2 linked regions of the Homo sapiens genome follow. The protein of the gene in region 2 purifies or fractionates together with the protein of the main gene of each other region. This does not show direct contact. Each region holds a gene or a part of one and is shown on either strand. Other genes may lie near its edges.

The links. The genes of interacting proteins can lie anywhere in the genome.
Region 1: the proteins of ARHGAP42 (region 2) and MACO1 purify together in Homo sapiens (affinity purification with mass spectrometry; one large-scale study listed by BioGRID and IntAct). This does not show direct contact.

Annotation. Positions count from the first base shown.
Region 1 is NC_000001.11:25,485,542-25,491,028, forward strand, and holds part of MACO1 (macoilin), read left to right. Parts: intron 1-71; coding exon 72-254; intron 255-3,631; coding exon 3,632-3,752; intron 3,753-5,487. UniProt on the Homo sapiens protein: Plays a role in the regulation of neuronal activity.
Region 2 is NC_000011.10:100,990,772-100,995,912, forward strand, and holds the end of ARHGAP42 (rho GTPase-activating protein 42), read left to right. Parts: 3' UTR 1-3,170; downstream 3,171-5,141. UniProt on the Homo sapiens protein: May influence blood pressure by functioning as a GTPase-activating protein for RHOA in vascular smooth muscle.

The DNA of each region.
Region 1 (5,487 bases), on a different chromosome or scaffold from region 2:
AGATGTTTCTCAAGGGTTTATAGTGGGCATTTGTAATTTTAAGACTTTATATGACAATCATTTCCATATAGGTTACATAATGCTGTGCAAATGAAGCAAAAAGACAAGCAGAATATCAGCCAGTTGGAGAAAAAGCTAAAAGCTGAGCAGGAAGCCCGAAGTTTTGTAGAGAAACAGTTAATGGAAGAGAAAAAGAGGAAGAAGTTAGAAGAAGCCACTGCTGCCCGGGCTGTTGCGTTTGCTGCTGCATCTAGGTATGTCCATGTCACCTGAGTGTTTAATCCAAGGTTGGCTTTCCTTTACCAACAAAGACATGGGAATTTGGTGCCTTGGGCAGGATTGGACGTACAGCAATCATGCACGGATGGATTGCTTTTAAGTACTGTTTTATTAACTGGTTTAAACTCCATGTGTGCAAGCTTGCACTATCTTATAACAGCTTTATCCCTCAGTGACCTCATCTATAAAGTGGGATGAGGGAATCACCATGTTTCCCATACCTGGGAGGCAAAGTACTGCTCATAAAAAGGTTTCCAGTCACTTTTTGTCAGACTGATGATTACTAAATGCATTGAGAGATTCTATCTGGAAGTTCGTTCCCTTTAGAGAGCTATCATTACTCTCCACTCTTAGGTATATGTGTTTCTGAAGTTTTTATCTTAAAATGGAAGAAAGATAAAATCTTGGTTGCCCAAGCACTGTGTACTGGCTGCTCAAATGGATATCAGCAAACTGTCAAATGAAATGGAAAAAAAAAGTGAAACATAAGTCTCTACTAGATGGAATTACATTTATGGCATAATGAAAATTGGGGACTACCTCCTATACCACTGGAAAGTACCCCTGTGTGCAAGTATTCCAAAAACTATTAGATAGTTAAGAGCTTTTTTTTTCTTTTTGCTTCTACTTCACTTATCACTTTTTCCTTTGTTTTCTTGACTAGTGAAGTCCCTCTGCATGTGGGAATCAGTTAGGTGTTTGCAGATATAGAGCGAGGGTAAATTATTATTTATTTCACTTTTAAATTCCATCCTAATTTGTATCTACGTGGTATAATTCAACTGTAATTTTTCCTTGAATTTTGCTTTGTCGTAATTAAAGTTAAGTAATTTAACTTTTGGCATGTTGATAGCCTTCTTTGTGGGTTCTGGCATTTGCAGAATAATTGGTGAATCATTTCACCTTTTAGGAAATAACAGCAAGTGAGAACTCTCTCCTGTGTGATCCTGCCTCCCCCCAGCAGATGGCTGAGCTGGCTTGGCCCATCAGCATCTATACAGACTTACAAGGCCCTTGACTAGCCTGCCTACAATGTGGGATTGTTTGTTTGTTTGAAGATGTATTTGCATTCTGAAGCACTTAAACTTGCAGGAGATGTTCTTGAACAGTCATCTAGTGATGACTGCTCTCCTCTCTCCTCAATTCATACAGCACCTGCCCTTTCTGAAAAATTCCACTCAGGAGGACATAGCAGTTCCTTAACGATATTGCTTAGTGTCTCCCATGCCTGAGAATCAGTAAGTTGATTTCAGTGTCTACCCCAAATCCCTTTTGCTTCCAGTTAAGCTTATTTATCTTATCCCTGGATAGTCCTTGTTTTTCATAACTTATTCTTTTTTTCCTTCTTTTTGAGACGGAGTCTAACTCTGTCACCCAGGCTGGAGTGCAGTGGCGCGATCTCAGCTCACTGCAGCCTTTGCCACCCAGGTTCAAGCGATTCTCCTGCCTCAGCCTCCCAAGTAGCTGGGATTACAGGCTCCTGCCACCGTGCCCAGCAACTTTTTGTATTTTTAGTAGAGACGAGGTTTCACCATCTTGGCAGGCTGGTCTCGAACTCCTGACCTCAGGTGATCTGCCCACCTTGACCTCCCAAAGTGCTGGGATTACAGGCGTGAGCCACCACACCAGGCCTGCCATAATTTATTCAGTAAATCTCAGGGCATAAATCTCTGACTGGACCTTCCGTTTTGGTAGGCAGAGAACACCTACTTTCTTCATTGGGCTGTTTCTGGAACCTAGACAGTACCAGCTTTGGACTGGCCATTGCCATCATCTCTTTTAGCTCAACCTTATGATAGCCCTGAGAAGCAGCTCAACAGTGTGCCCTTATTTTTCTGTTTACTCCAGTCTTGTGGCAACTTTATGACAAGAAAGACAAAAGTCCCAATGCGTAGCCCCTCAAAAGTGGGGGGAAAATTTTTTTCTAGTTCACCGCCCCCTGCTGGACATAGTACATGTTCAGTTCTATCTGGCTTTGTGTGTATTGTCTCAAGTCTCATGGCCTGGTGGGAAGTTTGCTGGATTGGGAAGCCAGAAAATCTCAGTTCTTATCCCTATTCTAAGACCTAAAAGCTAGGTAACCTTGAACTAGTATTTTATCTATGTAGCCTCAGTTTTCTTATCTGGAAAATGGGATAAATATACCCTAGGTTGTTATAAGGATTGAAGAAGGTAGTATGGGTAAAGTACCTTAGTGTCTGGCTCATCTAGACACTCAGTAATAATTATTGTATATATGTATGTATTTTGAGACAGGATATCATTCTGTCACCCAGACTGGAGTGCAATGGTGCAGTCATAGCTTACTATAACCTGAAACTCCTGGGCTCAAGTTGTCCTCTTGCCTCAGCCTCCTGAGTAGCTGGGACTACAGGCATGTGCTACTATGCCCAGCTATTTTTTAAATTTTTTGTAGAGACAGGGTCTCTCTGTGTTGCCCAGGCTGATCTCAGACTCTGGGCTCAAGCAGTCCTCCCACCTTGGCCTTGGGAGTGCTGGGATTACGGGCATGAGCCACCATGCCCAGCCCAGTTATTTTAGAGTATTATTGAAATTATCAAAGGACACAGAGAACTGAGCAGACTGAGCCAAAAGCTAAAACCTGACAGACCCTGGAGTATAAAAGAAATTAAAAGAAATATAAATCCCACAATACAAGTAAACCTATAGTCTTTTTTTTTTCTTTTTTTTGAGACAGAGTCTCACTTTGTCACCCAGGCTAACGTGCTGTGACACCATCTCAGCTCAGTGCAGCCTCTGCCTCCCAGGTACAAGCAATTCTCCTGCCTCGGCCTCCCGAGTAGCTGGGATTACAGATGTGTGCCACTACACCCAGCTAATTTTTGTAGAGAGAGGGTTTCACTGTGTTGGCCAGGCTGGTCTTGAACTCCTGACCTCAAGTGATCCACCTGCCTTGGCCTCCCAAATTGCTGTGATTACAGGCGTGAGCCACTGCACTCGGCCAACCTATAGTCTTTTTTAAAATTTTATTTATTTATTTATTTATTTGTTTTTGAGATGGAGTCTCACTCGGACGCCCAAGCTGGAGTGCAGTGGCACGATCTGGACTCGCTGCAACCTCCACCTCCTGGGTTCAAGCAATTCTTCTGCCTCAGCCTCCCCAGTAGCTGGGACTACAGGCATGTACCACCATGCCCAGCCAATTTTTTTTGTATTTTTAGTAGAGACGGGGTTTCACCATGCTGGTCAGGTTGGTCTCGAACCCCTGACCTCAAATAATCTGCCTGCCTCGGCCTCCCAAAGTGCTGGGATTACAGGCCTGAGTCACAGGGCCCAGCCCCAACCTATAGTCTTTTAAATCACTTTATTTCCTTCTCTTCTTTTTCAAAAGGGGAGAATGCACCGAAACCTTACGGAATCGGATCAGAGAACTAGAAGCAGAGGGCAAGAAGCTCACGATGGACATGAAGGTGAAAGAAGACCAAATCAGAGAACTAGAACTAAAAGTCCAGGTAAGGGGGGAACAAAAGACTTCCCTTGTATTTGAATTCCACTTTTATGCTAAACTTGTGCTCTGTGTTGCAGTGTAGAGATGATGCCTTTTAATATAGATCAAATCTCATTGCATCTGAAAAATCTCTATGTGACAAAAAGATTTGAAGTTCTAATCTTGTCCAGCTCATTTCAAGTCATATTAATGTAGCCAGATTCTAATACAAACCAGAAATGTTGACAATCCCTTGGTATGTTTTATACCAGGATTTAACTTGCTGTAGATTCATTTAACTTTTTCAGGTTATAGGCCAGATTAGTGTCCTTTGAAACTTACACACCTCCTTTTAGCCCCAACCCTCTTTCTATTGCCAGGGGACTGACCCTCCTGCATGGCTCTGAGCCTTGCAGATTGTTGTTCATAGCAGTGAATGATAGGAAAGGTGCTAGTGCTATGGACGTAGCCTGTTTTATGGGCTGTGTATACTTTAGCCAAATATTTGTCATTTAAACTAATGTCATATATTGTAAAGTTACAGTAATTTGAGCCAGGTGGGACAAGTGAAAAATTACTGTCAAGTCAGTGGACTAGAATGATGGCCTGGAGTACAGTACCGAAAAAAATACGAAAAAAAGTAAAGGTGGCATCAGAGATAGATGGGAAAGGTAACGATTAGTCAGTAAAAGGCTTTGGAATAGCTAAATAACTGGAGAAAAAAAATTAGAAACTCATCTCATGCCACATATAAAGAAATTCCAGATGAAGAGTTGAAGGCAGAAAAAACAAAGAATAAATGAGTTTTTAAAAACTAGGTGGAAATATACTTGACCTTGAAACAAGGGAAAGATTTTCTAAACATACAAGCAATGGGAAAAAATCACAAAGCAAAAATCATAATAATAAATGAAAAAATTGATTGGGGAAGGTATGAATATTGCAACAAATATTATAAATAAGGAATTAATATTCTCAACATATCCGTAGCTCATAAAAGTTGCTAAGGAAAGCTCATATATATAGCAAAATAGGCTGAGGATGTGAACAAATAATTCAGAGGAAATACAGGTGACTGATAAGATCATAAAAATATAAACTCACCAATCATCAAAGACATGCAGATTAAAAGTAGATATCATTTTTCTCCTATGAAATTAGCAGATGATTTTTAAATGAGAATATCAATCATGGTGAGGATGCAACAAAATAGGCCTCATACATTGCTGGTAGAAATGTAACTTTCTGGAAAAGGTCTTGCACTTTTTAAGTATTTACCTTTTTTAGGAATCCAGCCTAAGGTAAACAATTTTAAAATCTCACCAATGAGTGATGTACAGAGATGTTCATCGTAGTGGTATAAAAATGCAAAAAAATTGAAAACAGTCTTAACAATGGGAGAGTCATTTAAATTTTGGTATGTAAACATTCAGGAATATTGTACAGCCAATAAAAATTTTATTTTCAAACAATAGTTAAAATCATTTAGTTTTTAAAAGACTATGTACAAAACTGTACATTTAATATTTCACTTCTGCTAAAAGATACACATATGCATAAAAGATTAAAAGAAATATTAAATTTTTTAGTGTTGGTATTATGAGTAATTTTCATTTTCTTCTTTGAATTTTTCTATATTCCTAAATTCTCTGTAATAAGTTTGGATTTTTCTGTTAAAAAGAAAAATTCAAATATCTGTATATATTAATTGTTTACATTAAAGTGGGCTTATTCTGCAGTATGCCCTGTCAAAATAATTA
Region 2 (5,141 bases):
CTTGCCATCATCTGGTATCCTGCTAGACTAGAATCTCTTAAAAGCAAATTGGTTTTCTTTCAAAGACCAACTTGACTCCAAAGAGAGATTCAGAATCCTACTTCTCCTGCTGCTGCATAAAGAATCTCAACCTTCATTTTATTTGAACACGGACCAAAGTGTTCCTGCTTCTGAGTTGTCTGTAAGCTAATTCTGCAGATGTTCCATTCAGATTTAAAGCTTTTTTACTGCATAGGATGTGGATAGGAAGCCTAACTATTGTATCTGATGGCAAGGCATATGTTGCAGCCACAGTACTGGCTATGGTCCCTTTGCTGAAACAAGCTACAGAAGCACTGATTCAAGTTGTGCTTGTGCTTGAACTTTTAATCTTCTAGATTTGTGAGGATGGCTCTTTTTCCTTCATAATGGATTACAATGTAAGCAAGTCATGGCCATATACTGGAGACGGGCTAAAGCTGCTTTTCCCTTAAAGTAAGTTTCCTACAGATAAGGTATTTATGAGCACTGAGAAAGTCAGGACATGTACTCTAAATCACACAGAATGTTAATTCCACAGGAAGGCAATGCCAGACATTGAAAGAGGATCACATTCAACTTTTAATAGTAGTTCAATAACAAAACCTTAGCTTTTCAGGAACAATGTGAAGATACATTAGAATTGCCACATCCATATCTTCAAAACACGCAACCTCTGCACCCTAATAACTGCTTACGGTATAATCAGTATGATGATGAGATTGAGGGGGTCTAAATTTAAGTTCCTTATCTCCTGAGTTATGTGAAAATATCCCTCAGTACAAAACATTTGTGTGTTTCACAGATGACTCTCTTGTTTTGCCGTAATGCTACCAAGTTTATGGAAACTAGTCAACTGAAGGATTTTTCTGTTGTGTTATGTGTAAATGTCTGAACAGTAAAATCATCTGTGTATTCCTGTAACATTCACGAAGTATGAGGAAGTGGGTTTCTCCTTGTTTGATGTGAGTGGTTTTGCTTGTTGCATGGGTTCCCTGTGCTTTGTAACTTGCATGAACACAACCAGGTTTCTCAACAATGATTTGTCTGCTGACTCTTTTCAGAGATAGTGAAGGAAAAAAAATGTATTAAAACCCCAAATTATCTAGGTTTCCAAGTAGGAAAAATAAAGATACATATGACTTTTATTATTATTCGATGATAATTAGCTTTATATAATGTGGCATCCTTCATAAAAATTCACTATGTTGTGAGGCAAACAGATTTCTCACTATCATCCAGTGTACCCTGCTCACCTTCTCACTCCTAGCACCGTTCTTCTGGTCTGTGTTGAAAAGGGTATCATTCATGTGGTTTCAGTTTAGAAGAGTCCCTCAGAGCTTTGCCTCAAGCAATTTCAAATTGTAGTGATACCTTAAATCATGTATTCAGGATGCCTTCTTTAGCATTTAGAACCCCAACTAGACTTATACTTTGACTAAAGTCAGAGGCAGACCAATTTAGGGAACAGATTTTGTTCTTTGCTTTTATGATACATTTGTAACTCACAGCTGTTAGCATGACCTCACATCACTGCGTAGGACCCGGAAATCACATCTCCTGGTCAGGTCACGAAAAAGAACACAGGCTTGACTATTGTCCAGAAGTTACTTTCCCCTTGACTAAAGGTTTCCCCTTAGGGTACACATTGCTATTTAACTTTGCCTCCTACCCTTTTTTGTTACCTTCCAAAATCAAGACACTTTTAAGAAACAAAGATAGTTTTCTGAACATTCTGTGTCCTGCCTGTCTCCTGTTGATTCGCAGATGTAATATCGAGTATTCATCAACTGGTCTCAATTTCCTGAACACATTCACTGTATCCCTCATTGTCACCGTTATCCCCCTGCTTCAAAATGTGCCAGTTCCACTTGGTAATAACGTTGGGAAAATGCAGGTTTATGAATGATGTGGACTTTTAGAGGATCAAATCAATAAATTGGATTTTTTATTTTTTGAGGGCAGCTGCCCTCACTGTTTTAAATAAAGAATCTTACATAAGAATGTTGACAACATTCACAGTAAGCCATTGGCAGAAAATTGATCTGCATGTCCTAGACCAATGATTACAAGGTGTCTGTGGTTTAGGGGGCCCAGCCCATCATTCCTTTTCCCCTTGGCACTCATGAGAGAGATGCCAAGTTCAGTGTGGATTTTTCTTGGTGCTCTATGGAGAAATGGAGTCTGTGTGCTTACTGAAGAGTCCCAAAAACCAGAGACCATTTTCATTTACTGCCATCATAAATATTCTCCACCATTCAAGATGCCTGTGTACACGGCTATTTGGGAAACTTAAGTGTTGGAGGAGGCAGGGGCTGAAGGTGTCAAAACCTCCTCAGTAGGATAACCCCTTTCTCCCCTTTGGACCATCTGCCATCTTTCATGAGTGTTTCCCATGGTGTTTTTGCATCCAGAGTTGACAACAACTCAATTTTGCCTTGAATTTACTCAGTCTTATAAATTAAAAATGTGCATTTTATATAAAGATGCATTTTATATAAAAATGCACACCTTTAATCTCTATATGGCAGCATATACATATATATATATAAAATGCACACTTTTAATCTCTATATGGCAGCATTTTTGAGGCTTTATATCTGCCCGTGTACCCTCAACTGCCTCCTTTTTGCAGAGAACGATCCCCACAGGAACTGGTCTAAGAACACTGTCTGCACATGATTGATGCTTAAAATCCAATATACCACCACATATCAAAGGTTGGGATTTTCAGAGTCCTTCTTGATTTCTGAGCTGAAACCTTAACAAATAGGGAATTTGGCAGGGAAGACACCTGGGTTTTTAATTCAGAACCCTATTTATATACTGTTAAAATTTGAGGTACTGTAGTTTATATAAAAGTCGGATGTTAAGATATTATATTTCAGTACTAGGAGCTTCTTTGCAGTCATTAACATGACAAATTAAGTAATAAATATAAAAGTGATTGTCCATAAATTATCATTGAATTTTTTGTTTATTTTGTAGTGTTCTGTATTTATCTGCACTTTGTGTATATATACACACATACATATGCCAACATGTAAATAACCTCATGTTTATTCCTAATCTAAATTGCCACAATATTTTTAATGTATGGTTACACTGTGTTTTAAATTACTTTAAAAATAAACTTTGTAAGCAGATTTTAATTTAGTCTTTGTACTTGAAGACCCACTGTGTTGGAGGGCAATTGTCTTGGCTTCATGTAGAGAAAAAACAAAGTTTCTGGTACTGTGAGTGATCACTTTGGTATGGCTAAATCATAGCAGAATTTGGTGACCTTCTCCTCACAAATTGGTATTCTGCAAGCTTTGGAAAATGTTAATGTTGATAACCTATTAATAATGCAGGTATCCACCGAGGGGAGAGGGAAATGGGCCATATGCAAAATACTAAATATAACAAGCATACAGGCTTACCTGAAAATATATATGTTTATAAAAGTTTCCAAGTGTACTATGGAAGAAATATCAGCGTACAAATACCTCCTGTCCATTTTTATTAGTCTTATGAACCTCTTGGTCATGACTTGACTTCTAGGTAAAACTTTGCTTCGCTGCATCAAAAAAAAAGATAATCGTGTATTTCTTTTGCATTGCTCCATAGATTATTAGAGTGCAGCAAATCACCTTGCCAAAGCTAAGCCTCACAGGTTGACCATTGGACAACCTGGCTTGCTCACATAGGTTGTAGTTTTCATCGATATCAGAGGAAAAGAGATAAATTCATGACACAACACCTGTTCAGATATAAGGATTAATGTTAACTCCAGTATAGTTAAGCAGGAAAGGACTATTAGGTTAGATATTACAGATTATTCTAGATGAGCTACTGTTTAAGAATGTTGGTTAAGACTGTTGGCCTGGAATCCCCTATAACTGATATTTTAGAATTAAAAATGAATTAACTTCCAGTGGCCAAAGCCGGAATGATTTGAGCAACAAAATAATGCAGTATTGAATGATTGGCTTATAAAACAAAGTATAAAATGAATATCCATGAATCCACATGGATATCAATGACAATAAATTTCACTTGTGTAAAAAAATGAGGGAGAAGAGACAAATCTTTACAAAAATATTCCAAATCATAATTGGAGTTATAGTTACCCTTCCCTCTAGCAGGTAGAATTTAATCCTCTCCTGCTTAAAGGTGAGCTAGACTTAGTAACTCATTTCCAAAATTTAGAGTATAGAAAACCGTCATAACTTTATAGAAAAGAAACCTAGTAGCCACTGTCTTAACCAAGTGGTAAAACTTAATATCAGTGATATCATGTGGTTGACTTACACCCCATAATATGTGATGTGAAGAGCAATTCACCTCTGTGGTATTCTTTCCCCAAACCCATAATTCCAGTGTAACCATTAGAAAAACATCAGACAAGCCCAGACTGAGGACATTCTACAGAAAAGATCTCAGCCCAGTACTCCTCAAGACTGTTGAGCTCATGAAAAATAGGTAAATACTGAGCAAATGTCACAGATCAGAGGAGACTTAGGAGACAGGGCAACTAAATGTAATGTGGAACCCTGGACTGGATCCTGGAACAGAAAGGAGAAAATAATAGCGGGCGTGGTGCCTCGCGCCTGTAATCCCAGCACTTTGGGAGGCCGAGGCGGGTGGATCACCTGAGGTCAGGAGTTCAAGACCAGCCTGGCCAACATGGTGAAACCCCGTCTCTACTAAAAATACAAAATTAGCCGGGCGTGGTGGTGCATGCCTGTAACCCAGTTACTCAGGAGGCTGAGGCAGGAGAATCTCTTGAACCATGGAGGCAGAGGTTGCAGTGAGCCGAGATTGTGCCATTGCACTCCAGCCTGGGCAAAAACGAGTGAAATTCCATCTCAAAATAAATAAATGAATAAATAAATAAATAAATAAATAAATAAAAGATAAGCTGGTGGTGTCCAAATAAGGTCTAAACTTTAGTTAATAGTTTAAAAAACAAGGTAACAAAAACTACTCAAAAAATAGTACATGAGCTGGGGATACTTATATCATTTTGGGAATTTAAGTGACTTTTTCAAGAATTAAACATTTTCACTTGTTCCCCATTAAATTTTGATCTGTGTGTGCAAGATACATCTCCTATTCATCAGTCAATCTCAGGCTTTAGA